Linked DNA regions of Homo sapiens: all the other regions are linked to region 1. The links come from fine-mapping of genetic effects on gene expression. A gene starts in region 1. Each other region holds a variant in brackets. All regions are shown on one strand. Distances are between the middles of the regions. Region 1 holds the start of SIGIRR (single Ig and TIR domain containing). Region 2 holds the start of PKP3 (plakophilin 3). Region 3 holds the start of EPS8L2 (EPS8 signaling adaptor L2). Region 4 has its middle 4.1 kb from the start of B4GALNT4. Region 5 holds the start of PTDSS2 (phosphatidylserine synthase 2).

The links.
Region 2: its variant is fine-mapped to the expression of SIGIRR in whole blood (TOPMed, PIP above 0.99).
Region 3: its variant is fine-mapped to the expression of SIGIRR in lymphoblastoid cells (GTEx, PIP 0.92).
Region 4: its variant is fine-mapped to the expression of SIGIRR in esophagus muscle (GTEx, PIP 0.99).
Region 5: its variant is fine-mapped to the expression of SIGIRR in prefrontal cortex (GTEx, PIP above 0.99).

What each region holds. Positions count from the first base shown.
Region 1 is chr11:412,964-418,060 of GRCh38, forward strand. It overlaps SIGIRR (single Ig and TIR domain containing), which reads right to left and starts at 2,036. Exons shown (of 10, transcript NM_001135054.2): 1 at 1,860-2,036. It overlaps ANO9 (anoctamin 9), which reads right to left. Exons shown (of 23, transcript NM_001012302.3): 23 at 4,975-5,097. RefSeq lists an enhancer at 2,509-3,128 and silencers at 3,649-3,718, 3,779-3,898, 3,929-4,008, 4,219-4,268.
Region 2 is chr11:389,320-394,416 of GRCh38, forward strand. PKP3 (plakophilin 3) reads left to right here and starts at 4,890. Exons shown (of 13, transcript NM_007183.4): 1 at 4,890-5,097. The coding sequence starts at 4,974. RefSeq lists an enhancer at 4,343-5,097. The variant G/A (reference allele first, on the strand shown) is at 2,102.
Region 3 is chr11:701,464-706,560 of GRCh38, forward strand. TMEM80 (transmembrane protein 80) reads left to right here. Exons shown (of 5, transcript NM_001042463.3): 5 at 1,482-2,666. The coding sequence ends at 1,687. It overlaps EPS8L2 (EPS8 signaling adaptor L2), which reads left to right and starts at 4,768. Exons shown (of 21, transcript NM_022772.4): 1 at 4,768-4,825. It also overlaps a transcript of DEAF1 not described here. RefSeq lists an enhancer at 2,681-3,608 and a silencer at 4,585-4,714. The variant A/G (reference allele first, on the strand shown) is at 2,306.
Region 4 is chr11:362,824-367,920 of GRCh38, forward strand. No RefSeq gene overlaps it. Among named protein-coding and RNA genes, the nearest start is that of B4GALNT4, 4.1 kb to the right of the region's middle. The variant G/A (reference allele first, on the strand shown) is at 1,972.
Region 5 is chr11:446,177-451,273 of GRCh38, forward strand. PTDSS2 (phosphatidylserine synthase 2) reads left to right here and starts at 4,103. Exons shown (of 12, transcript NM_030783.3): 1 at 4,103-4,461. The coding sequence starts at 4,280. RefSeq lists enhancers at 1,731-1,870, 3,603-4,289, 3,888-4,167 and silencers at 1,881-2,170, 2,261-2,570, 4,198-4,437, 4,628-4,687, 4,698-4,787. The variant A/ATCTCCCCGCCCCGGCC (reference allele first, on the strand shown) is at 2,127.

The DNA of each region.
Region 1 (5,097 bases):
GTGGCTGCAGGGAGAAGCCCAGAGCCTCTTCCTTGGCAGCCCAGGGCCCCAGGGGCCTCTCCTCACTGGATGCCACAGGGTCACCCTGTTTATCCAACAGGCACTGACTGTCTACTCCCCTCCCTGCTGCAGGGACACAGTGGAAGTGGGGATGTGGGGATCAAGCCTAAGTTTCTGCACCCCAGCTCCCTCAGGATTCCTCCCCGCTAAGGCCCCAGAGGCAGTGGCAGGGACAGTCCTCTTAGCCTGCCACCTATTCCCTCTCCATGGGTGAAGCACAGCCAGAGGCCCCAGGTTTGACTGTTTGGCAGTTTCCTCGGGAACCGATACAGCATGAGGCACACACCCATGGGGGATGGCCAGGGGGTCCTTGAAGAAGTCCTTTGCGGTGGAGGACACTCCAAGGAAAGTCCTTGACCCAGGGGAACCACCCACTGAGGGTCCTTAAAGCACACACTTCCCAGGAAACCAACCCCTCACAGCAAGCCCGGGAGGTCACACCGCCAGCCCAGCAGAACCCCTGGCATCTCCTGCAGTGCTTCCGTGACCGCCCCAAGCTCAGACCTCAAAGTCCTCCCTCCAAAAGCAGCCTCAGAGCCTTCTGGAAGTCAAGGGCAGACTGCCAGGATACGAGCACAGCAAGAAAGCAGGTGCCCTCCCCTGCAAACCCTCCTCTGCACCCTCTCCGCTGCCTGCCTCTCCTTGCACCCTCTCCCCTGCACCCTCTCCCTGCAAACCCTCCCCTGCACCCTCTTCCCGCACCCTCTCCCCTGCTCCCTCTCCCCTACGCACCTTCCCCTGCACCCTCTCCTCTGCCTGCCTCCCCCTGCACGCTCTCCACTCCCCACCTTCCCCTGCCCACCTTCCCCTGCACCCTCTCCCCTGAACCCTCTCCTCTGCCTGCCTCCCCCTGCACCCTCTCCCCTCCCCACCTTCCCCTGCACCCTCTCTTCTGCCTGCCTCCTCCTGCACCTTCTCTCCTCCCTACCTTTCCCTGTACTCTCGTCTGCCTACCTTCCCCTGCACCCTCTCCCCTCCCCACCTTTCCCTGCACCCTCTCCCCTGCACACCTTCCCCTGCACTCTCTCCTCTGCCTACCTTCCCCTGCACCCTCTCCCTCCCCACCTTTCCCTGCACACCTTCCCCTGCACCCTCTCCTCTGCCTACCTTCCCCTGCACCCTCTCCCCTCCCCACCTTTCCCTGCACCCTCTCCCCTGCACACCTTCCCCTGCACCCTCTCCTCTGCCTACCTTCCCCTGCACCCTCTCCCCTCCCCACCTTTCCCTGCACACCTTCCCCTGCACCCTCTCCCCTGCACCCTCTCCTCTGCCTACCTTCCCCTGCACCCTCTCCCCTCCCCACCTTTCCCTGCACCCTCTCCCCTGCACACCTTTCCTTGTACCCCCTCCCCTCCCTAACTTCCCCTGCACCCTCTCCTCTGCCCCTCCTCCCCTGCACACATCACATACACACAGCCCTCTGGCCCATGTGCACCTGCACAGAGCTTCAGTCTCAGCCCGTGTGCACACTTGCACCTCCTACACAGCACACTTCCTACCACACACACCTCCCATTACCACTGCACACAGCTTAGGCTGCAGACCCCTCACACAACTGTTGAGTATATACAACACCCATTGCAACGCTTGTCACAGAGCCTAGGACCACAGGCACCCCACAGCACACACACTGCACCTGACACCCACCCTTGGCCGCTGATGCGACACAGCCTCCTGCTGCCCCTCGCTCTGTCTCACACACACATGCACACACATGCATATGGGTCTTGGGCGCCGTGGGCCTCCTCTCAGCCAGGCCCTGACACAGGCTCACTCAGAGCAGCGGGGAAGGCAGTCACCTGGTTCCAGTTCTTTCCTCCGGGGGGCAAATGTTGGTCATTGGTGCGCCTTTGGGAGCAAACTCTCCCCTTCGCTGGGCCCCAGGGAGTGTCCACAGCACCAAGGCTGCTATGGATGCATCGCCAAGCGCGGTGGGGACCTGGCTTGTGTCTTTGTGTATTTTGATCAGAACTTTCCCTGTAGCTTCCTGGCCTTGCAGTCACATCCTCTCCTAACCCTAAACCCCACCCAGGCACCCACCCCTTCCCTAGGCGGGCGGGAGGACGGGCAGTTGGTGGTTCTCACCCCGCCTGCCCCGGCTCTTCCTGTAGCTCTGAGTCAAGCGGCTCCTTCCTCTGGAGCCCGCCCCAACCCACCCAGGCACGGCACTTTCCTCTGTGCAGCGTGTGTGTGTGTGTGTGTGTGTGTGTGTGTGTGTGTGTGTGTGCAGTGTGTCTGCGTGTGTGCAATGTGTGTGCAGTATGTGCGTGTGCGTGCGTTTGTGTGTGTGCGTGTGTGTTGTGGGGTGGGGGGTGCTCAAAGGGGCAGGTTCCAGGGGTAATGCATGGGGGGTCCTCCAGCCAGGAGACCCCCGCCAGGGCCACCCTGCACACATACAAGGAGGACCGGGGACCGCGCGGCATGCCTTCCAGACGCTACTAGAGCTCACACTCAGGAGCCAAGGGGCCGGTTTGCTCCCCCATGTGTCTTTGACCTCTGACCCCGGGGAACAGGGCCTTCAGAAACTCCCGGTCAACAATGGGGCTCCAGCAGAACTCTTCCGCCCTCTCCCCGTCCCTCTCCCAGACATAGCTCCCCCGATGGGTGAGCAGTTACAAGGGACTATGGCATCTTGTGGACCTTCCCTTCAGGCTGGGGTGGGAGGGCAGCGCCCCCTTTTCCAAATAAGGAGCAAACACAGGTGGCCGAGGCTCCTGGCTCAGAGCAGATGAGGGGCAGATGGCATCTCCTGTTGTCACCAAACTGACACTCCCCAGGTTGACCTGGGACTGGGGACCCAGTGACCGGTGGCTGGTATTGCCCACAGAATCAGACAAGGGTCTCCTTTGGACCCTGGCCCTGCCCTCAGCCACATGGGGGCAGGGCTTCATTGTGGAGGGCTGCCATCCAGCCTCCCGGCCCTGGCTGAGCACCCTCTCAGCAGCAGGCTTTCTACAGGTACTTGTCTGACTGAGTCCCAGCCCTGCTAGGACCTTCCTTTGTCCCGGTACTCAGCCTTGGGTGATGGTGGGCCTTGGGCTCAGGGTCCCAAAGACAGCACCCCTTCCCCCACAGAGCCTGGTACCAGCCCCTCCTTGAAGTGGGTCCTTGGAAGCCCCTCAAGAAGGTTCTCCCCACACTGCAGGTCAGGAAGCAGGCACAGCAGGGCCCAGGGCACCCCCGCAGGAAGCAGGAGCAGGGCCTCCAGCACAGGCCCTGGGGTCAGCCGCCAACTGTGAAGCCCCGGCTCGGCGGCTGCTCTGTGCACCCGGTCTCAGCGTCACCATCTCTCAGGGCTGGCTTGGCACCCTCTCCTTCCCTCTCTCTGCTAACGTCCTGCACCCCCGAGCCCCCAGGTCCACCGTCCAGGGTGAGCATGAACACCCACAAAGTCTCCGACCCTCGCCCGCACAGCTCTTCCGAGGCGCCCAGAATCTCAGTCCAAGCCTGGCCCTGGTCGCCTCGCACTGCCCACCGCACTCTGCTGGGCACCTTGAGGTTCTTAGAAAGCGCCAGCTCCTCCCGCCCTCAGACCCAGCCAGCGTCCTCGGTCCGCGGCCGCCCCTGCCCGGTGGGTTCGACGCTCAGCACCCAGCACCCTGCGGGCGACTCCCGCTCAGCTCGGACGCGCCGCCCCTCCGCTCCCCGTGCGCGCTGGGCCCCCAGCGCCTGTCCTGAAGCAGGAACGTGGGTAAAAGGCTGCGGCCCCGCAGGCCGAGGGGCTCTGGTTCGCTCCCCTACCCCGCGCCCACCTGCGCCCTGGGCGCCCTCCAAGTGAGGAGGGCGGAGAACGAGGACGCGCGCGGGAGGCGGGCACGGGGGTGCGGCTCGGGGCGCTCGGCCGGGGCAGAGGCGCGCGGATGGCGGAAGCTCCACCCGGCGCCGGGCGAGCTCGGGCCCCAGCCTGACTCTTGGTCCGCCCTCGGCGCCTCAGGAAGCCTCGAGCTGGGATCCAGGCTTGGGCGACCGAGGTGGGATCCCTGCGCGCCTCGGCGCTCCTAGCCCCGCTCTGTTCTGCGCGAGGGTCACCAAAAAGCCGCTGACCACGTCGGGCAGAGGAAAGGGTGGCCCCCGCCCCCTTCGCCCACTTTCCTCCCTTCCCCCAGCCCTGGAAAGGGCCAGGACGCGGGCGAGCTCGGGCTTCCGGGCGACGCGGGAACCTCCCCGGCCCCGAGCCATTTCCTGAGAGACCGCGCCCAGGGACAAGCAGCGCCCCGGGCCCCGACTCCAGGCCTGCAGCGGCTCTGGGAGGACTGCGACCTCCACTCACCTTCGCGGGTCTGATGGCGACCGCCACTCACCTGCTGCCAGGACCTGGGGCTCGCGCCGGGCGGGGGCGGGGCAGCTCACCTGAGCCAGGTGCGCAGCGGCAACAGCCCCGGCGGCGGCGTAGCCCCGGCAGCGGCAGCAGGTGCGGCCCCGCCCCGCAGTCAGGGCGGGGGCGGACCCCAGCGTCCCGCTCTGCGCCCAAGGCTGGCGCTGGAGGCTGCGCTGCTGCCCGGGAGCCGCTGCCGCACGGGCCTGGGGCCAGTGGCCAAACCAGCCCAACCAGCGCGCAGAGCCCCGGAGCCCCAGAGCCTTGGGGACTCTTCGGAGCGTCCACCGCCCTCAAGGTTTTGCGCGTCCGCCCCTATCTCTTCCCTTTCCTCCAGGAAGCCTGCCTTGACCCCCACCCCACCCTCAAGTGGCCCCGATGTCTTCTCTTGCCTCCCTCAACACCCCAGGTGCAGGGACGGGGAGAGGACCCCATAGGCGCCCCTCCCTTGGAAGCCCATGGAAAACTGGAGAAGGGACAGGCGGCCTGAGGCGGCCTCACCTGGTTCCAGACGTTCCACACTCCGGGTCTGTTTCCCATCTAGCCCTGAGGGCAGATATAATCCACCCGGGACCCAGCGAGGCCAGGAAAGCAAGACAGACAGGCTTAATTTTACTGCAGAAACGGGTTGGCTGAAGGGAACAGGCCAGCGAGGTGGGCTCAGGACACCCCCAACAGCCAGGATGGGGGCACGGCAGGATCTGGCGCCCAGAAGTCAGAGG
Region 2 (5,097 bases), 24 kb before region 1:
CTATGCAGTTATAAGAACGATCAAAGACTTTAAGACTTTCACTATTTCTTCTACCGCTATCTACTACGAACTTCAAAGAGGAACCAGGAGTACGGGAGGAGCATGAAAGTGGACAAGGAGTGTGATCATTCAAGCACCACAGGGAGGGGGTTAGGCCTCCGGATGACTGCGGGCCAGGCCTGGAGAATATCCAGCCTCCCACAAGAAGCTGGTGGAGCAGAGTGTTCCCCGACCTCTCCAAGGAAAGGAGACTCCCTTTCGCGGTCGGCTAAGGAACGGGTGCCTTCCCAGGCACTCGCGTTACCGCTTGACCAAGGAGCCCTCAAGCGGCCCTTATGTTGGCGTGACAGAGGGCTCACCTCTTGCCTTCTAGGTCACTTCTCACAACGTCCCTTCAGCACCTGACCCTATACCCACCGCTTATTCCTAGGTTATATAGTAATGGAACAAAGAGTAATATTAAAAGCTAATGACTAATAATGTTTATAATAATGATTGATAATTGTCCATGAGCATCTCTATATCTAATTTGTATTATGACTATTCTTATTCTATTTTCTTTATTATACTGAAACAGTTTGTGCCTTCAGTCTCTTGCCTGGGCACCTGGGTCATCCTCCGCCCACAGGGGACCGCTGGAGGACAGACCATCCCTGGAGACGTGGGTTGCCGGACCTCGGGCCAGTCTCCCAAATGGTACAGCAGGACTGATGGGTCCCCAGCCTCCTCTCCCCAGCTACAGTCGTCCAGACCACCATTGCCATCCAGGAACCCCAGGGATTGTAGGGGTCAAGGGAAGGAGGATGGACCTCGTCCTGGACTCCAGAGTTCTCCTCTCCAATCTGGGCCCCCCTCCCCATCTCTTGGCACAACTGTGAGTGGCATCTCAGGCCTCCTTCCTCCACCATGTCAGGAATCAACACAGTCTTGTGAATACAGGGACCTCTCCATGGAGGGGTTAGCTTTTTTCCTTTCAGAAGGCACCTTCTTAGGCCAGGCCCCCGATTCCCAGGACTTCCCTCCTCCGCCTTGTTTGAGGAGGACCTGGCCCCACAGCGCCACCTGTTTATAACAGGAAAGCAACAGGAGCGGCCGCCACCTGTTAGCAGCTGCAATTTGGTGAGGAACACTTGGGGCTAACTGAATGGGTCCACACACCGTCCTGAGGCCAGACCCCAGGAGAACCCCCGGGAGATGCCCCGCCTGCCTCAGACAGACGCCCCCTTCCCCAGAGGAGCGCCGGGGTCCTGAGGCCAGACCCCAGGAGAACCCCCGGGAGATGCCCCGCCTGCCTCAGACAGACGCCCCCTTCCCCAGAGGAGCGCCGGGGTCCTGAGGCCAGACCCCAGGAGAACCCCCGGGAGATGCCCCGCCTGCCTCAGACAGACGCCCCCTTCCCCAGAGGAGCGCCGGGGTCCTGAGGCCAGACCCCAGGAGAACCCCCGGGAGATGCCCCGCCTGCCTCAGACAGACGCCCCCTTCCCCAGAGGAGCGCCGGGGTCCTGAGGCCAGACCCCAGGAGAACCCCCGGGAGATGCCCCGCCTGCCTCAGACAGACGCCCCCTTCCCCAGAGGAGCGCCGGGGTCCTGAGGCCAGACCCCAGGAGAACCCCCGGGAGATGCCCCGCCTGCCTCAGACAGACGCCCCCTTCCCCAGAGGAGCGCCGGGGGCATAGCAAGAGCCCGGGACTCGTCTGATGAACGAACAAGTAGTGGACGGACAGATGGACAGACTGACCAACAGGCCGGCAGTGGACGGGGTGTGTGCAGATGAAAGGTGTCCCCCCCAAGAGCCTACAGGGGCCATACCCCTCAGCTACTTTCCATGCCAAGGACCAAGGCCAGAGACCTCAGAGCTGCCCCAGCCACAGGCGCGGGGCAGGGGCCACACTCCACAAGGTGAGGGGTGGTGCCCATGGGCAGCCGGGCAGGCTCCGTGGAGGGGCTGGACTTGGCTGGAGCCCAAGTCAGAAGGTTTGCAAGCGTGGGCGCCAACAGGAAGCGCCAGGACGCTTGCCTCTGGGTGAGCTGTGCCCCCACGCCGGGTCCATCAACCACCAAGGGGCTCCCCTAATGCACTCCGAACCCCGCCCCTGCAGGC[G/A]GTGGGACCTGAGGCAGCCTCCCAAGCCTCTCTGTGCACCGGCTCACTCCTGAATTCGGCTTTGACTATATTTTGCTTCCAACGTCCTCACACCTTTCTCCCCAGATCCTCCCCCTTCTGCTCCTTAAGACGACCACCCCAACCCCCTCCACCCACGCAGGCTCTGCCCTGGAGGTTTGTCTTCTGTGCCCTCCCACAACTCCGGGCACGCACCTGGCAGCTCTGCCCACGACCTGGGCCCAGCCGACCTTCTCTGTGAGCGCCTCCCGTGCCCCCCACGCTGAGCCCACCATGCCCCGAAGCCCTCCTGCGCCCTCTCCCACCGCCTCTTGGGAGGTGACTGACAGGCCACACCCCACCCAGGACCCATCTAAGAGCAGCGCTCACTCACCCTTCGAGGCCCTCAGGTTCCAGGCTCTCAACCTGATTGTGCACCCAAGCGGCCCGAGGCTCCGTGCAGATTCCGGGCCCCACAGACAACCGCTTCCTCCAGGAAGCCTACCGTCAAGCCCCCCTCCAGGGCTCCTGTGTCAGGAGCTGGCTCCAGGGAGAGTGCGACCCTCAGGGCTGGTCACAGGGATCAGATGAGACTCCGCCGAGCCTGGAGCTGGAAGCTGCAGCGGTGGCCTAGCAGGCATCGCCATCCGTCTGGCCCGGCCGCAGTGAGGGAAGGTGCACCCCAGATTCCTGGCTTTGCCAAAACTGTGCCTGGCGGGCACCACGCATCCTCAGGGAGGCGCCGCAGCTCTGGGGGGGGGCACCCACAGCCCTCTCTGCCAAGGGGAGGAGGGAAGGTGGGCAGAGTCGGCCCTGGGGGCCCTGCAGGCCGCGGGGTACCGGCGTTCCCATCATAGCTCCAGCCGCACGGAAGCCCCTTCACTGAGTCCTCTTGTGAGCCCTTCGGCCTGACTGGGCTGCAGAGGCCCTCCAGGCTGGCTTCCCCCTCATGCCGCCCAGCCTGGCCCCTGCAGGGCCCCAGGTGGGCCTGGGGTGGACCTGGGTGCAGGGCGGGACCCAGCCCATGCCAGGCACATACCTCCAGGCCCGCTCTGCGCCGCACAAACTTGTCTCCCAGGATTTTTCCACACGAAACCTGTCTCCCAGGGAATCAGCCAGTCCGATGAGCTGGGCGTTCCCACCCCGCCCTCCGAGGCCCCCACAGTCCTGTCCCCGCCGCAGAGGCTGCCCCGCACGCGCCGGGCCAGGGATGGAGTCCTGGACACCTCGGCCGTCAGCAGTGGCCTCTGGGATGAGCTGGGAGGCTGGCGGGATCCGGACCACGAGCCGGGTAGGTCTCCCACCCCTTCCCCACCACCCCGACCCCACCTGGTGGCCCCAGCCCGGGCCTCACCCATCCTTTCAGTGGACCTTCCCCTCCCCCTTTAACCCCCCACGCTGACCTCCGACTCCTACTCTCCAGCTTCCTCCCCTCAGAACTGACCTCACCCTTAATGCTGCCTCCTAACCCTGACCCGGCCCTCACGCCAGACCCCTGCCCCAGCCCCATTAAGGCAAAAATCTTCCAGGGACGGAGCTAGGGGGCAAGGGTCTGCCCTGGAGGAGAGCCCAGAGCCAGGGTCCAGGGTCCAGGGAGAAGCAGAGGCTGTCCGATGAGCTCGTGAGAGAAGCCCAGAGGTTGTCATAGATGTTCAGCTCCCACCCCCAGCCCTCCTAGGCTTATCCCCACCCCCATCTACCAGGGGCTTGTCCCAGAGGCTAGAGGGCCTCAGAGCCCATTTGCTGGCTGTGGTGCTAGAAGGAGACCTTCTGGGCACAAGCCCTGCTTGGTCCAGGGCCCCCCCACCAGGGGCCCCCCACTACCCCACCCCCACCAGGGGCCCCCCACCCTCGCTCCCTCTCCATCCAGGCCTCTGCTCTTCCAGACCCCTGGTTCTTCCCTGCACACCCGCTCCTGCCCCAGCCTGACATGCGCTGACAGGAGTGCAGGCCCTCTGAGTCAACCCCCTGGGGCGGCCCCGCCCCCCTGCACCCTGACTCATGTGCTGGGAACGGCCTCCCACCCCAGGGCCTGGGGTGCAGGAGCAGTGGTGCCAGGGTCCCAGAAGCCAGAGAGGGTTTTGGAGGCCTCTGTAGGGGGTGAGGGGGTCCTGGGGGTGAGTTCCAGGGTCTGCAGGCTTCGGGGGAGGGCCGGTCCATCCACATGCTTCCTGGTGCGGAGGGGGCTCGCTGGATTCCAAGGACCAGGGCCAGGGCCTCCATGGAGTCCCGTTGGACCCTAAAGCTCTGTCCCTCCAGCCTTTGTCCTGATCCCTGGCACTGACCCCTGACTCCCGACAGTGTCTCCTGCCAACCCTTCCTAGGCCTCATCCCCACCTCACCAGGAAGGCTGGGCTACCATGGAGGCTGGCTGATTCTTGGAGCTACCTAGGGCCCTAGACCCCCAGGGACTGGGGCACCCTCCCCTTCATGCTGGGGGTGGCAGGACATAGGCCCCCCGCAGGCCCCCTGCCCTTCCCTGACACTCAGGACACAGAGGGCCCCTCTGTCCCAGCCCCACGACAAAGGGCCCGGTCTGGCCTTTACAGGCTGAGAACAAGAAGGACCCAGGTCCCCGTGGCCCTGTTGTGGGATGGGAGAAAAGGAGGCGGGAGGCCAGGCTGGGACCTGGGGCCATGCAGGGCCTGTTCTTCCGCCCAAATTCCACCTTAAGCAGGCGGCGGCCCCTCCCTCCCACCTGGCCAGGTGTCCCCGCCCCCAGCTGCGCTCAGGGCTGGGCAGGCGTCTGTCTTCAGGCGGCTCTGGGTGAGGCTGGCTGGGCGGGGACTTCAGGGAGAGGGCCTCGAGGGACAGGACGTGAAGATAGTTGGGTTTGGAGGCGGCCGCCAGGCCCAGGCCCGGTGGACCTGCCGCCATGCAGGACGGTAACTTCCTGCTGTCGGCCCTGCAGCCTGAGGCCGGCGTGTGCTCCCTGGCGCTGCCCTCTGACCTGCAGCTGGACCGCCGGGGCGCCGAGGGGCCGGAGGCCGAGCGGCTGC
Region 3 (5,097 bases), 290 kb after region 1:
GCAGTGGCGTGAACTTGGCTCACTGCAAGCTCCGCCTCCCGGGTTCACGCCAGTCTCCTGTCTCAGCCTCCCGAGTAACTGGGACTACAGGTGCCCGCCACCACGCCCGGCTCATTTTTGTATTTTTAGTAGAGATGGGGTTTCACCATGTTAGCCAGGATGGTTTCCATCTCCTGACCTCCTGATCCGCCCACCTCGGCCTCCCAAAGTGCTGGGATTACAGGCGTGAGCCACCGCGCCCGGCCGGAGACAGGGTTTCGCTATGTTACCCTGGTTGGTCTTGAACTCTTGGGCTCAAGCAATCTGCCCACCTTGGCCTCCCAAAGTGCCTGGCCTCACTCCCCTTTTTTTAACCACACAATTTGTTCAAGGGTATGTTCTTGTACAAGATTCAAGGGGTGCAGAAGTAAAACATGGAAATTCGCCCTCCCCAGAGCTCACCTCTGTGGCCAGCGGGGTGCAGACTTCCAGCCCTCTGCGTGCTCATGGTCGTAACATGTGCACCTAAACACACGTGTTTGTGAAACATTGTCCTGCCGTGGGGAACGCAATGGGCACTTCCAGGGCGCTGTGCCCCTGCCAGGCTGGAATCTTGGGCCCCTCTTGTTCACATACAGATACACCCCTGATGCCTGATGTCCAGTGAGGAACCAAGGCTGCGGGGAAGGGTGGCCCCCACCCTTCCTCTTGTTATCAGGCCTCAGACACACTAGGAGGATGGAGGCGAGTTCTCTCAGCTGCCCATCCCACTGAGGGGTGCCCGGCCGTCAGTGTCTTGTCTGCACTTACGTCCCAGAACCTCTAGAGCTTGCCCCCCAGGGCGGGCACTGCTGGGAGGGTGCGAGCACCGCTGCGGCACAGAGGCCCGGTTCTTGGCTGATCTTCTGGGGCCTGGGCCTGCCCTGAGGTGGTGGGGACAGGGTGTGGCCTGGCCCTGCTGGGGGCTGCTAGGCCAACGGGACCCTCCCCAAGCGCGCCGCACACTGCAGGGTCTCCAGGCACCTGGGCTCAGCTAGTGACTGACCCATTTGTTTGCTAAATACGCAGTTTTGTTTTTAATACATACTCGTGAAATTTTCCAGAACTGGCCTTGGACCAGAGAAAAATACTTTGGGAATTTTTCAAAAAAATCCCTTCAGTTCCACTTGGAATTAGGAAAACGTGGCAGATGCACTTGAATCATTTTAGAAACCAAATTCACCCCCGCCCACACAGCCGACCCAGAAGACCCAGAGACAGATCAAACCATGCTGTTGCAGGGGCACCTCCCCCAGGAGGGGCTCACGCCTGTGTTGCCCATGCTCTCTGGCTCTCCTGAGTTCTGGGTGGCCATGGAGGCTGTTTCCCTGGAATTCCCCAGGCCCCGGAGGAACGTAGGGCAAGGAGCTGCTCTGGTCCCAGCAGCCCTCCAGGCACCTGTGGGCGGTGGGCTCCAGGGAGCGCCTCGCACCACCTTCCCTCCCCTTTGCTCTGTTCTCCAGGCACCAGGGGCAACCTGACAGAGGCTGAGAGGCCGCTGGCCGCCAGCCTGGCCCTCACGGCTGGCACCGCCCTCCTCTCTGCCCACTTCCTGCTTTGGCAGGCCCTAGTGTTGTGGGCGGACTGGGCCCTCAGCGCCACGCTCCTGGCCCTTCACGGCCTGGAGGCCGTCCTGCAGGTGGTTGCCATCGCGGCCTTCACCAGGTAGCTACGGACACCCGGGATACCCCACACTGGGGCCCTCCTCCTGGGCCTGACCAGTCCCCCAGCTGTCACCTCCCCATTCCTGGACAGGAAGGGCACTTTTCCTAGTGACTGGCCATAGATGGTTTTGGATGGTTCCATCTGTTCTGGCAGGAGTGGGAGCAGGAGCCAGGGCAGAACAAACTGCTGGAGGCCCTGGTGTTGGGAACAGCTGCGGGGAGGGTAGGGACCAGACAGAACTGCCTTCAAGATGAGTCCCAGGAGCGCACACTCAGCCCTGTCAGTGGGGTCTGGCTTTAGCAGCCAGGCCTCCACAGACCCCCATGGGCCCCCAGGGCCGAGAGGGAGGACAGAGCCCTTCAGAACAGAGGCCTCATCTCACTGCATCCCCCATCACCCCCTAGTTCCCCAATGGTCCTAATTTGTGTTCTGAGATCCCAGTTTACTCCGTGGCCAGGCCCCACCTGTGTTTCCAAGTCGGGCTGGAGACGCAGGATGGGGTAGGCCTTGTGCTCTGAGCAACCCCAGCTCTGCCTCACAGGCAGGCAGGCCCGGTGCAAGAGTGGACTCTGGGTTCCTAAAGCAATAAATGCAAACAAGCCAACAGCTCTGCTGCCTAGCA[A/G]TTTCCATCTTAGCCACACTTCTCCCTTCAGGGGCTTCGGAGGAGAGGTCAGGGCTAAGGCCGGGGATGAGACTGCAGGAGAGAGAGCAGCGGAGGGCCACATTCGGAGCCTCCGTCCACTCCAGTTTTATCAGCTTTTGCCTTTTGCACGGAGTGCTAAACAAATTCTAGCTCTGTGTTTTTTTCCCATTCCCAGATTTACTATCAGTTCTCCTTAAAAAGTATCTAAGCTGTTACAGTAGCTTTCCCTTCACTTGATTCTATTGTGTGTTTTCTATGTTTGGAATAATTACACCCAAATATCTAGATATTTTCTCTTCACCGCATTTTGTAAATAAAGAGATGTGTATGCCTCCCTGAATTCTCCTAATTATGGCCACCTCCCCCACCCCATCTCCAGTTCTCCTGCCCTGCAAGAGAGCACACCCCACTTGCCAGCTGGTCAGTTCCTGGCTGGCCTCGCCCTCGGGCCCTGGCTGCCGGGCGCCTTCCGCTCGGTGGACTCCTGAGGGCAGGAGGCTGCGGGACTGTCCTGGGCCTCCACTGGGGCTCCCTCGGCTGGGGTGGCTGTGGCTGTGGCACCTGGACAGTCTTTCCTGCCTGTCTTCGTGGAAGCGGTGGGAGCACCCAGTTGTCCTGGGCCGACTTCCTTTGACCTGTCTGTGGCCCCCAGTGGCCACGGTGAGCTGCAGGACAGCCCTGAGGACCCACTTCACACACCAGCGCCTGAGCGCCTCGGGCCACCTCCCTCACCAGCGCCTGCACTCGCAGAAGACCAGCTGGGCACACCTGCCATCTGGAGGACCCAGCCCACAAACCATGCAGACCAGGGAAGGACCCCCTCCCTGAAGCTGGAGACCTGTTGCCTTCATGGTTAATGGATCCTGATACCTCCAGTCTCAGCGAGCACACAAAGGCAGTGGTCACCTGTTCCACAGGGAACGCCATGGCTCCAGGTGACCCGGAGTGGATGGGGCCCGAGAGGCCAGCCTGGACTGTCTCCTGAGGGCAGGCTCCGCACTCAAAATCGTGTTGACAGGCACCCGTTTAGGAGTGGAGAGGGACCCCACCCCCCAGCTGTCCTCTCCAGCGCCTGTTTCCCACTTGGCCACTCCCAGCTCTGCCTCCAGGAAGGGTGAGGGCACGGGTGCACCGAGGGGTTGGCGTGTGTGACCCTGAGCTCTGGGTCAGGGCAAGCTCATGCATGGAGCAGGATCACGGCAGGTTCCTGGAGATCAAACGGCAAAGGCTGTAAACCAGGAAGCCAGGTCTTGCCTGGGCTCAGGGGCAGGCACTGGGCCCGAAGGAGGAGGGCCACTTCCTGCCAGCCCTCCACCGAGCTCACCTATGGCGCCTCCCCAGGAAGTGCTCCGGCCAGCCCAGGGTAAACACGCTAGCCCTGCCCCTCTGGGACCATAGCCCGGGGACCCAGACTCTTGGCCACGCTCATTCCCACCCCTACCCAGGACCGGCAGCCGGAGCCTTGGGTCCCTGCATGGGCCTGGGGCGCCCTGTGCCCCTTCACCTCGTCCTCGTCCAGTTGACTGCTGTGGCAGCCGGTGCTACCCGCTGTGTCCACTGCACCCTGGCCCTGTTCTGAGCGGTCACAGCAGCTGGGGAGAAGGGCCATCCTGGAAGCCGGGCAGATGAGGACGGAACCAGACAGTCCCACTGTGGTGGGCAGAGGTGGGGCCTGGGCCTGACCACGGGGCAGTGCAAGGAGAGAGGCATCCTGAGAGGGCCTGAGGTGTCCCCACCTCCCCTGACACCCCATCCCTCAGTGCCCAGGCTGGGCAGAAAGGGGGGCCTGGAGGAGCAGCTGCACTGTGAACTCAGGGCTCCAGGCCTGGGGTGGGCATGGCTGGGTCCTGCCTGACACCCACCCACTCACCGAAGCCTCTGCCCCTGGGCCTGCGGTGGGCCCGGTAAGGGAAGTGACTCTGCCCCATGCCTGGGGCACCTGAGGGGTGCACCTGGCCCGGCGGAGGCTCTGACCTCCCCAGGGCTGGAGCCCTCCCCAGCAATGCGCCAGCGCTGCCCCCGAAGTCCCATTGGCAGCGTTCCCCCGTCCCCCGGCCTGCTGGGGCGCAGCTAGGCCCTGCCCAAGGAAGAGCTCGAGGCCTCGCCCTGCTCATCCCGCGGAGGCGGCCCTGCGCCCCGCCTGTCCCCAGCGCCCCAGCTCTAGGGGCTAGGCCCGCGGAGGGGCACACCAGGCGGGTGTTGGGGAGGACGCAGAGGGCTGGGGCTGGAGCCCAGGCGGGGCAGGGGGCGGGGCGGAGCTGGGTCCGAGGCCGGCGGGGGCGCCTCCATCCCACGCCCTCCTCCCCCGCGCGCCCGCCCGCTCTCGGGTGACTCCGCAACCTGTCGCTCAGGTTCCTCCTCTCCCGGCCCCGCCCCGGCCCGGCCCCGCCGAGCGTCCCACCCGCCCGCGGGAGACCTGGCGCCCCGGCCGAGGCGCGAACAGACGGACGCACCGGCGAGCGCCGAGGGGACAGGCCGAGCGCGGGGCGCCGGAGGCAGGTGAGCGCTGCGGACACGGGGGAGCGCGCCCGCCCGGGCCTCAGTTTACCCGGTGGCGATGGGACGCGGGGCTTCTGGTTCAGGACACCGGGACGAACGCGGCGTCGCAGGGCGCGGGGCACTTGGAGGGCGGCCGGGCCGAGGGCGCGGGGCAAGGGGCTGGGGGCCTGGTCGAGTCCCCACCTCTCCTGGACGGGTCCTGCTGCAGCCCGGCCTGCCCCCGTCGGTCCTGGGCGGCGGCCGGCGAGCAAGGATATTTTTAAGCCAGCGAT
Region 4 (5,097 bases), 50 kb before region 1:
TGCTCCAACCCCTTAACCCAAGACCAGAGGAGGCCTGCTAGGGGCCACGTGCCACATGGGCTGCTCGGCCACTTGGGCCACATGGCCAAGCACATCCAGTGCTGCTTGAACTGTGTCGAGCTTCTGGCTGGACCTCTGGTTGGCCTCTGCACTGACTTTCAGCAAAGCATTGCCACCATCTGGAGACAGGTGTCCCAGGGTCCACCATCTGGACATAGCTGTTGCAGCCCACGCCATCCGGAGAGAGGTGTCCCGGCCCCCACCGTCCGGAGAGAGAGCTCTCCCGGCCCCCACCGTCTGGAGAGAGGTGTCCCGGCCCCACCATCCGGAGAGAGCTGTCCCGGCCCTACCGTCTGGAGAGAGAGCTGTCCCGGCCCCACCGTCTGGAGAGAGGGGTCCCGGCCCCCACCGTCTGGGGAGAGCTGTCCCGGCCCCCACCGTCTGGAGAGAGAGCTGTCCCGGCCCCCACCGTCTGGAGAGAGAGCTGTCCCAGCCCCACCGTCTGGAGAGAGGTGTCCCGACCCCACCGTCTGGAGAGAGGTGTCCCAGCCCCACCGTCTGGGGAGAGGTGTCCCGGCCCCACCGTCTGGAGAGAGAGGTGTCCCGGCCCCACCGTCTGGGGAGAGCTGTTCCGGCCCCACCGTCTGCAGAGAGGTGTCCCGGCCCCACCGTCTGGAGAGAGCTGTCCCAGCCCCACCGTCTGGGGAGAGGTGTCCCGGCTCCCACCGTCTGGAGAGAGCTGTCCCGGCCCCCACCGTCTGGAGAGAGAGCTGTCCCGGCCCCACCGTCTGGAGAGAGGTGTCCCGGCCCCACCGTCTGGGGAAAGCTGTCCCGGCCCCACCGTCTGGAGAGAGAGCTGTCCCGGCCCCCACCATCCGGAGAGAGAGGTGTCCCGGCCCCCACCATCTGGAGAGAGAGCTGTCCCGGCCCCCACCGTCTGGAGAGAGGTGTCCCGGCCCCACCGTCTGGAGAGAGCTGTCCCGGCCCCACCGTCTGGAGAGAGGTGTCCCGGCCCCACCGTCTGGAGAGAGGTGTCCCGGCCCCACCGTCTGGAGAGAGCTGTCCCGGCCCCACCGTCTGGAGAGAGGTGTCCCGGCCCCCACCGTCTGGGGAGAGCTGTCCCGGCCCCACCAGGCTCCAGATACTGAGCAGGGCCAAGGGCCACATTCTTTTTTTTTTTTTTTTTTTTTTTGCACAGGATCTTGCTTGGTTGCCTAGTCTGGAGTGCGGTGGCATAATCACAGGTCTGCAGCCTCGACCTCCCAGGCCTCAGCAATCCTTCCACCCCAGCCTCTCGAGTAGCTGAGACTACAGGTTTGCACCACACCTGGCAAATGTTTGTGTTTTTTGTAGAGATAGGGTCTCCCTGTGTTGCCAAGGCTGGTCTCGAACTCCTGTGCTCAAGCGTCCTCTCCCACCTCCACCTCCCAAAGTGTTGAGATTACAGGCATAAGCCGCCGTGCCCAACCCCAAAGGCACATTCTAACGCCTGGGCTGCCATCGTGCACTGGGTGTGGTCGGACCCACCAGCCTCAGGGCTGGGTGTGCACAGCAGATGCCACCGACGGAAGTGGTCTACACGTGGTCAGCTCAAACAGGTCCTGGGGGCCCTGGGAAGCCAGTGGAGGAGGTGGGTCCTGAACAGGCATGAACAGGCAGCTCCCCTCACTCTGCCTCATCTCTCTGAAATACACCACTGGGTCGTGAGGCGTTCCCTCGGACCAGATGACTCAGAAAGCACAATGCAGCCCTGGTCACAGATGGCTCTGCCTAATAAGCTGGCACCACCCCGAAGTGGGCGCCCCAGCACGGCAGCGCCACCTGGGTGTGGGAGGCCAGGCCTGCACGACAGGTGCAAAGGCAGGTCCTCACCTGGGTGTGGGAGGCCAGGCCTGCACGACAGGTGCAAAGGCAGGTCCTCGCAGGGCCGAGCAGCAAGCAGGATGGAGGAGGAGGCAGAGTTCCGTGGAC[G/A]CCCCGGCCACGGCCGACCGTCTAGCTGATGGCCAGGCACTTGGAGGGGCACGATTACAAAGTTAGAGATGAAACGGTCGGGGTGAAGGTATGTAGACAGACCTCTTGGGGTGGGCAGAGCATAAAGAATTTGTGTGCAAAGACCTGTCTCAGCAGAGGAGGGACCCTAATAGTCAGACGGACAAAATGACCCATTTGTGCGCATCAGGCAGCCTCTTTCCCCAGCTCCCCTTGTCCTGAGTCGGGCCAAGTGGCTGTAGCAGTGGGAAGCGGATTACCCTGGGCACCGCGCAGCCAACAGCGGAGACCAACACTGGCCCCTTCCTCCACCATGGAGGATGCTTGTCCCAGCAGGATGGGCTCCCACCCCAGCTGTGGATGGTCAGTGCCCTCAATGCCTCTGCCCAAACCACCACCCCACACATTCAGAGCTCCTCGTCCACCCACGGGGTGCTCCTCATGGCGGCATCGCCATTGTCCTGGGGACAGCAACCGGCCGGTGCTCCTGGAACCCACAGATCTCGCCGTGTTCCTGATGGAATGGCCTTTGGGAGGCTCAGTTTTGGCACCAGCTGAGTGACAATGCTGTGGATCTGGGGTCCTCTGGATGCAGCGGATCCACTGAATCAGCACTTAATCTCTGGCTTTTCCCAAAGCCGGGGCTCACTGGTCCAGGCGTGGAGGAGTGGAAACCCCAACTTCTTCCCATTGTCGTTAATCCCCAGTGAGCCACAAGTGAAAGTTTTGCCCCCTGCAGTGTTGCACGCTGTTGGTCTAGAGGCCTCAGATTCCCAGGGACCAACTCATCCCAGTTTGCTTAAGACTTTGCCGGTCTTATTTTCATTTTTTTATTTTTTATTTTTTTGAGGCTCAGTTTTGCTCTTGTTGCCCAGGCTGGAGTGCAATGGCACGATCTCGGCTCACCACAACCTCCGCCTCCTGGGTTCAAGCAATTCTCCTGCCTCAGCCTTCCTAGTAGCTGGGATTGCAGGCATGCACCACCATGCCCAGCTAATTTTTTATTTTTAGTAGAGACGGGGTTTCTCCATGTTGGTTAGGCTGGTCTCGAACTTCCAACCTCAGGTAATCCACCTGCCTCAGCGTCCCAAAGTGCTGAGATTACAGGCGTGAGCCACCGCGCCCAGCCGACTTTCCCAGGTTTAAAACGGAAAGTTCCATGTCCTAGGAATCCCCTCGGTCCTGGGAAAGCCCTGGAGTGTTTCCACCAGGGGACACGTTACGCAGGAAGCTGAGACTGCCCACCTGGACGCCGGTTCCTCACACCAGGGGGTCGACAAAGAAGAGGGTCCCTGTGCTGGTCCGGCTGACTGAGCCCAACAAGGGGAACTTGGAACCTGATCACAGAATGGGGCTAAGGGGGAGAAATTTGGGAGGCAGGAGATCGTCTGTAATATCACGTAGCTCCTCTAAGCCTTGCAGAAAACACCACTGGAAAACCAGAACCACCCCATAAGGCAAAACTGCTAACAGCATAGGCCTTTTGGGAAGGAACGTTTGGGTCACCCCACCAGACAGTGAACCACGACCAGCAGAGGTGCTTGCAGAGGGCAAAGGGACCACGCAGGAGTGACGGAAGAGCGTGGCCATAAAGACTGTACCAGCCACGACCTGGTGACCGTAGAAGTGAGTACTTCTTATCCTCACACAAGTCACACTTGTACTGACATTATCCGTTCTTCCTGCTTTTTTCCTCTTCCATTGCCCTCCTAGCTGCATAAAATGCGTTAACAACAGTTAACTTTACATTTCATCTCAGTATTTGTGTCATCCAACCCCCAACATGCACTTTGCAGTGTCAAGTGTTAAACGCTCTTAGAGAAACTAGAAGAACGAGGATCGTCTTCTCAAATGTGGATAACATGACACGAACCTTTTGTTCAGTCCCTTCTGGTTGGAATATTTGCATCATGTTACGTAGAAGCATGACTTTGTTTTTTGCTTTATTTGGAAGTTAAATGTGTTTTTTAAAAGAAGTGTGCGTCTGTGCTGAGTTGTCAAGAGGAGGAACCTGCCAGGTTGTTCTCTCTTTTTTTTTTTTGAGACCGAGTCTCGCTCTGTCACCCAGGCTGGAGTGCAGTGGCGCGATCTCGGCTCACTGCAAGCTCCGCCTCCCGGGTTCACGCCATTCTCCTGCCTCAGCCTCCGAGTAGCTGGGACTACAGGCGCCCGCCGCCACGCCCGGCTAATTTTTTGTATTTTCAGTACAGACAGGGTTTCACCGTGTTAGCCAGGATGGTCTCGATCTCCTGACCTCGTGATCCGCCCGCCTCGGCCTCCCAAAGTGCTGGGATTACAGGCGTGAGCCACCGCGCCCGGCCAGGTTGTTCTCTTATTCTAAGCTGGAGACCCATTTCCCAGAACCTTCTCCTCTGTGGCTGGGTCACACCGAAGTGAGGCGGTGGCCGTTCTTCTCCAGAAGGGGCCGAGACGGATGTGGTAGCATATGGAGCATCTGCGTCCGGCAGATCCCAGCTCGCCCCTCAATTGTACCTACTATGCTTTGGATCCACAGGGGACACCCTCTGACTGTGGACCCATGAAGTGTCCCAAACACGTCTCTCCCGACATTGCCAACACTTGCCTTCTAAGAACCTGTTTACGGGTCAGGCCAGCCGTTGCCTCCCCAGAGAGCGACCCTGGAGCGGGAGCCGGCCTCCCTCCATCACCCAGCTCATCTCCTTCACGTCACTCACCACCAGCAAAGCGACTATGCGTTCACTGGTCTGTCCCTGCCTAGTAACATGTAAACTCCATGAAAGGAGGGCCCTTTTCTGTCTTGCTCACTGCTGTGTCCCCTAAGTCCCTGGCTCGTCAGGACACTAGAATACTAGGTAGCGTCCACTGGCTGGATGAATGTGCCTAGGATGGGGTGCCATGCAGTGGAAAGAGGGAAAGCATTAGACGCACAGCCAGACAGATGCACATAGAAAATATGGGACTTGGAGAAACAGAATGAGACACATAAAAGAGCACCACTGGCCGGGCACAGTGGCTCACGCCTGGAATCCCAGCACTTTGGGAGGCCAAGGCGGGAGGATCACTTGAGCCCAGGAGTTCAACGCCAGCCCGGGACACATGGTGAGACCCTGAATCTGTTAAAAAAAA
Region 5 (5,097 bases), 33 kb after region 1:
GCCTCCTGGGCGCGGCCACAGACACAGACACAGTGTCTGGACGAGCAGACTCGTCCAGGCACTGCTCAGAGGCAGCCCCTCTGGGTCAGCTGGAGTCGGTGCCTCTGAGAACCTGCCCCTGTACTCTCTCTGGGCTGGTCTCAGGCACCCTGCTGGCTCCAGCCTCTCTTGGCTGACAGTGCTTGGCAGGCGACCCCCAGCCTGAAGCCCCTGCAGGGGAGACCCTCTCCCAGCTGGGCCTCTGCCCTTGAGGACCACCTGAAGCCATCCTTGCCTGCCACACCAGGGTGGCATTGGGGTGGGGACCCAAACCCCTCCCGTCCTCATTGCAGGGACAACTCTGTCTCCTTGCTGCCTCCCCAACACCTCCAGGCCTTAACCATCTTGACTTGGGGAGCAGTCCTGCTGTCCACGCTCCCTCCAACAAGCCAGAGAAAACTCCCGGGCACAGGTGTGCGTGTGGCACGGTGAGTTTTTCTGTAATCCACTCACCTTTATGGATTTACCGCACCAGGGGAAATATTACAACAGGCATTTGTTACTTTACAAATTCCTAGGCTTCCTCTCCCTTCCTTGCAAGGGCATTTTTAGAAAGCATTTCGCCAACATTCACTATTTACCACCATAAATGTGACTCTGGCCAGCTCTGTCCCTGGGTAAGGCCAGAATTGACCATTTTCTTAAAAGTTCCAGCGCCCTGAGGCTTCTGGCAGGCATCTCTGCAGCTGAGGAAGGCTTCTGTCCCGTGCACCCTTCCCCAGGCGGGGGACCCCCAGTTCTGCTGCTCTGGGGCCTCAAAGAACCAAGTCCTCCAAGCTGCTCCACTGCCTCCTCACCAGCCACGGTGCTCCCTGAGCCACAAACCTCCGGCCTCACCCCTGCCCCTCAGGCCCACGTCTTGCAATGGACTCTGCCAGTCCACACATGCCTGGGTGGGGAGGGGTGTGCACTTCTGCAGCTGGGGTGAAGACAGGGACAGGGTAATGTGAGACTCAGATATGAGACGCCAGGTGCAAAACTGCAGGTGGAGAGCTCCCTGTAGAGTGCAGGGGTTCAGGGTAGAGGCTCTGGGGTCTGGAAAGAGCTGGGCGTAGCTGTCACCAACCTTTCTCTGCCTCAGTTTTTTTTTTGTTTGTTTCTTTTTTTTTTTTTTTTTTTTTTTTTGAGACGGAGTCTTGCTCTGTCACCCAGGCTGGAGTGCAGTGGCGTGATCTCAGCTCACTGCAAGCTCTGCCTCCCAGGTTCACACCATTCTCCTGCCTTAGCCTCCCGAGCAGCTGGGACTACAGGCGCCCGCCACCACGCCCGGGTAATTTTTTGTATTTTTAGTAGAGATGGGCTTTCACCGTGTTAGCCAGGATGGTCTCGATCTCCTGACCTTGTGATCCACCCGCCTCGGCCTCCCAATGTGCTGGGATTACAGGCTTGAGCCACCGCGCCCGGCCTTCTCTGCCACAGTTTTTTTGTCTCTAAGCGACAGTCAAAAATAGAACCTAAGGGGGTGTGTTAAGATCACAATAGTTGGCCCGGCGCGGTGGCTCACGCCTGTAATCCCAGCATTTTGGGAGGCCAAGGTGGGTGGATCACCTGAGGTCAGGAGTTCGAGACCAGCCTGGCCAACTTGGTGAAACCCCGTCTCTACTAAAAATACAAAAATTAGCCGGGCGTGATGGCGGGCGCCTTTAATCCCAGCTACTCCGGAGGCTGAGGCAGGAGAATCGCTTGAACCCGAGAGGCGGAGGTTGCAGTGAGCCGAGATCACGCCACTGCACTCCAGGCCTGGGTGACAGAGTGAGACTACGCTTAAAAAAAAAAAAATCACAATAGTTAGCATTTACAAAGCGTTGGGAATTCTACTTGGCACGTGGCCAGAGCTCCGTAGTGATGGGCAACGAACACGTGGTCTGCGCGCCCGGGGCCGCGCGGTCTGGCGGGGCCGCGCGGTCTAGATCACGCTACTCCGGGTCCCAAGGCCCCGCCCTCAGGCCCCGCCCACAGACCATGTCCTCGGCCCCGCCCCTCACGCGCCCTTGGGCCCCGCCCCCGAGCCGACAGGAACGAGCGTCATTGCGAGGCGGCCTCGCGCGCAGCTTCCTTGGGGCCAGGGACCCCAGTGGGGCCGGTAC[A/ATCTCCCCGCCCCGGCC]TCTCCCCGCCCCGGCCTCTGCACCCTGGAGGGACGGCAGGAGGGCTCTCTGTGCAGTTTGAGAGAACACCCATACGCAGGAAATGACCCCAACGCCACCGAGAGGGCGCCTGGAATGTGAGCGCCACCTGCTGGGATGGGAAGAGGTCTGGGAGGGGACCTGAAGGATGGTTCACAGGGAACCAGGCCTGTCGGGTGATTGCTGGAAAGATGGCATGGACGGGAGCTGGCTGCTCTGGCCACTCAGCCGACCCCAGCTGGACGCGGCCAGGGCCTGGGGCAGGGGGCCAGGCCTGGGGAGGCCCAACAGCACGCCCCCTGGAGCCAGCGCCTCCCGCACTGCCCAGCCTGTGTGTCAGGAGCTGGGGTGAAGGTCCCATCACAGTCAGGCCCCATCCCTGCTGGGCGTGGCTGTGCAGGAGCCCCGCAAATATGTTTATATATTTAGTATGTGAGTTATATTTCAATAAAGCTGATATGAGATATACTTCACATATCATGCAGTTCACCCATTCAACTCGTTTCGAGTGGACAGTTGAGTGGTTTTTAGGACATTCACAGATAGGAGCTGAGGTCAATATTACAGCACTTTCATCGCCCCGAAAGAAACCTGCTACCCTTTGTAGTCGCTCCTTATTACCCCTTCCCCAGCCCCCGGTGAAAACTCATCTAATTTCTGTCTTCATAGATTTGCATTTCCTGGACATTTCATACAAATGGATCACATAATGCGTAGTCTCCTGTGACTGGCTTCTTTCACCTAGCATTTTTTTTTTTTTTTTTGAGACGGAGTCTCGCTCTGTCGCCCAGGATGGAGTGCAGTGGCACAATCTCGGCTCACTGCAACCTCCACCTCCCGGATTTAAGGGATTCTCCCACCTCAGCCTCCCGAGTAGCTAGGATTACAAGCGCCCGCCACAATGCCAGGGCAATTTTTGTATTTTTAGTAAAGATGGGGTGTCACCACTTTGCCTAGGCTGGTCTCGAACTCCTGACCTCAAGTCATCCGCCCGCCTTGGCCTCCCAAAGTGCTGGGATGACAGGCGTGCGCCGCCGCGCCCGGCCTGCCTAGCATAATGTTTTCAAGGTCCAGCTGTGCTGTAGCATGCGCATGCTTCGCTCCTCTATGGCTAATAACATGCCGCTATTATCAAAATGCTGCAACTAGGAGCGCTAGTGTGTAAATTTGGCGTGGACACTTGTTTCCAGGTTTGAGGAGCTGCCACATTGCTTTTCAGAGTGGCTCAGGAGCTAATTTTTTTGCAGGGTACCATGTCAACAATTTGGGTCAACTAAAATCAGCGTGTCCGCACCATTTTCGCCCGCCCAATTTCACGCGATCCTGCGAAAGAATGACCCAGACCGGTCCGGGCGCGGTGGCTCGCGCCTGTAATCCCAGCACTTTGGGAGGCCGAGGCGGCAGATCACAAGGTCAGGAGTTCGAGATTGGCCTGGCCAACATAGTGAAACCCCGTCTCTACTAAAAATACAAAAATTAGCCGGGCGTGATGGCGGCCGCCTGTAATCCCAGCTACTCGGGAAGCTTGAGACAGAAGAATCGTTTGAATCCGAGAGGCGGAGGTTGCAGTGAGCCGGGATCGCGCCATTGCACTCCAGCTCGGGCGGCAGTGCGAGACTCCGTCTCAAAAAGGAATGACCCGGGTCGCATGGGGTGAAGGGTCGGGAAGCGCCCCAAAAGGAGAACGGGGCTGGGCTCCGGGATCCGTCGGCGAGGAAGGGGCGAAGGGGTGGAGGGACTCGGGCCAGGCCGCCGGGGATGTCTGTGGTTACCTCCAAGCTCTGGAGGCCTTGGCGAGACCCGCGCCATCCGCAGCTTGGTTCCTGCGACCTCAGCCGCAGGGCGGTCCGGCTCCGGTTTCCCAGCAACCAGGCGTCATCCTTCCCAGCAAGCACTGCGTCCAACCCGCGACGTCGGACCACAAGGCCCAGCATGCCCCGCGCGGACTACAAGCCCCACAATGCACCGCACACCCTTTACTGGCCGGCCCCGCGCTGCTCTCCTAAGACCCCGCGGGCCAGCGCCGCGACCCCTTCCCAGCGCTCCTCGCGCTGTGTGCGGCGCGTCCTCTCGCCGGTGACCCGGTGTGCGTGGGGTCGAGGCGCCGGGCGGAGTGGCTCCGGGCCGAAACGCCATGCGGAGGGGCGAGCGCAGGGACGCCGGAGGTCCGCGGCCCGAGTCCCCGGTGCCCGCGGGCAGGGCCTCGCTGGAGGAGCCGCCTGACGGGCCGTCTGCCGGCCAAGCCACCGGGCCGGGCGAGGGCCGCCGCAGCACCGAGTCCGAGGTCTACGACGACGGCACCAACACCTTCTTCTGGTGAGGGCAGTGGGCGGCCGCGGGGCGGCGAGGGTGCCCTCGACCTGGGGGTTCCGGCACCGCTGGCCTGGGGGTCCCCGGCAGCGCCCTCTCGCCGTCTTGGAGTCCAGGACTGTGGCCGGGGGTTTGAGGGTGTGGCAGCACCGCCCCCCGGGTCCCGGGGAGCGGCCGGACCGAGCTCCCGACGCCGGGTCGGGCGGAGGGCGGCGCTGTAGGTGGGGGAGACCCTGGGCAGACCCTCCCTGCGGCCGCTTTGCGTCTCTCTCGCCGCCCTCCCCACCCCTGCCCGCCTTGGCTCTGACCGCGCGGTTCTGCGATCCAGACCCCTTCCCCGCCACCCGCCTCCAGCGTCACCCCAGAAACGCTTTCTCTGTCCTGCTGTCGAAGCTTCACCTGTGTCCCCCGTCATTCTGCCTGTGGTTGCTCCTCAGTGCTTGCGGCTGCACGAAATCATCTTGTGTGTCGCGCCCGACCCCACGTGGCGATCGTGTTGATTAGCAGAGTGTTGTGCGTGCTTCAGGAATGTAGTCGGTGTTCGTCGAATCCAGGCTCTGTTTCTCTCCTCAGTTGCCCCTAGCGGGGCCAGCGCCTCCTCCCTGCACAACTCAGCCCTAGCTACACCTTGGGGTCCCCCTG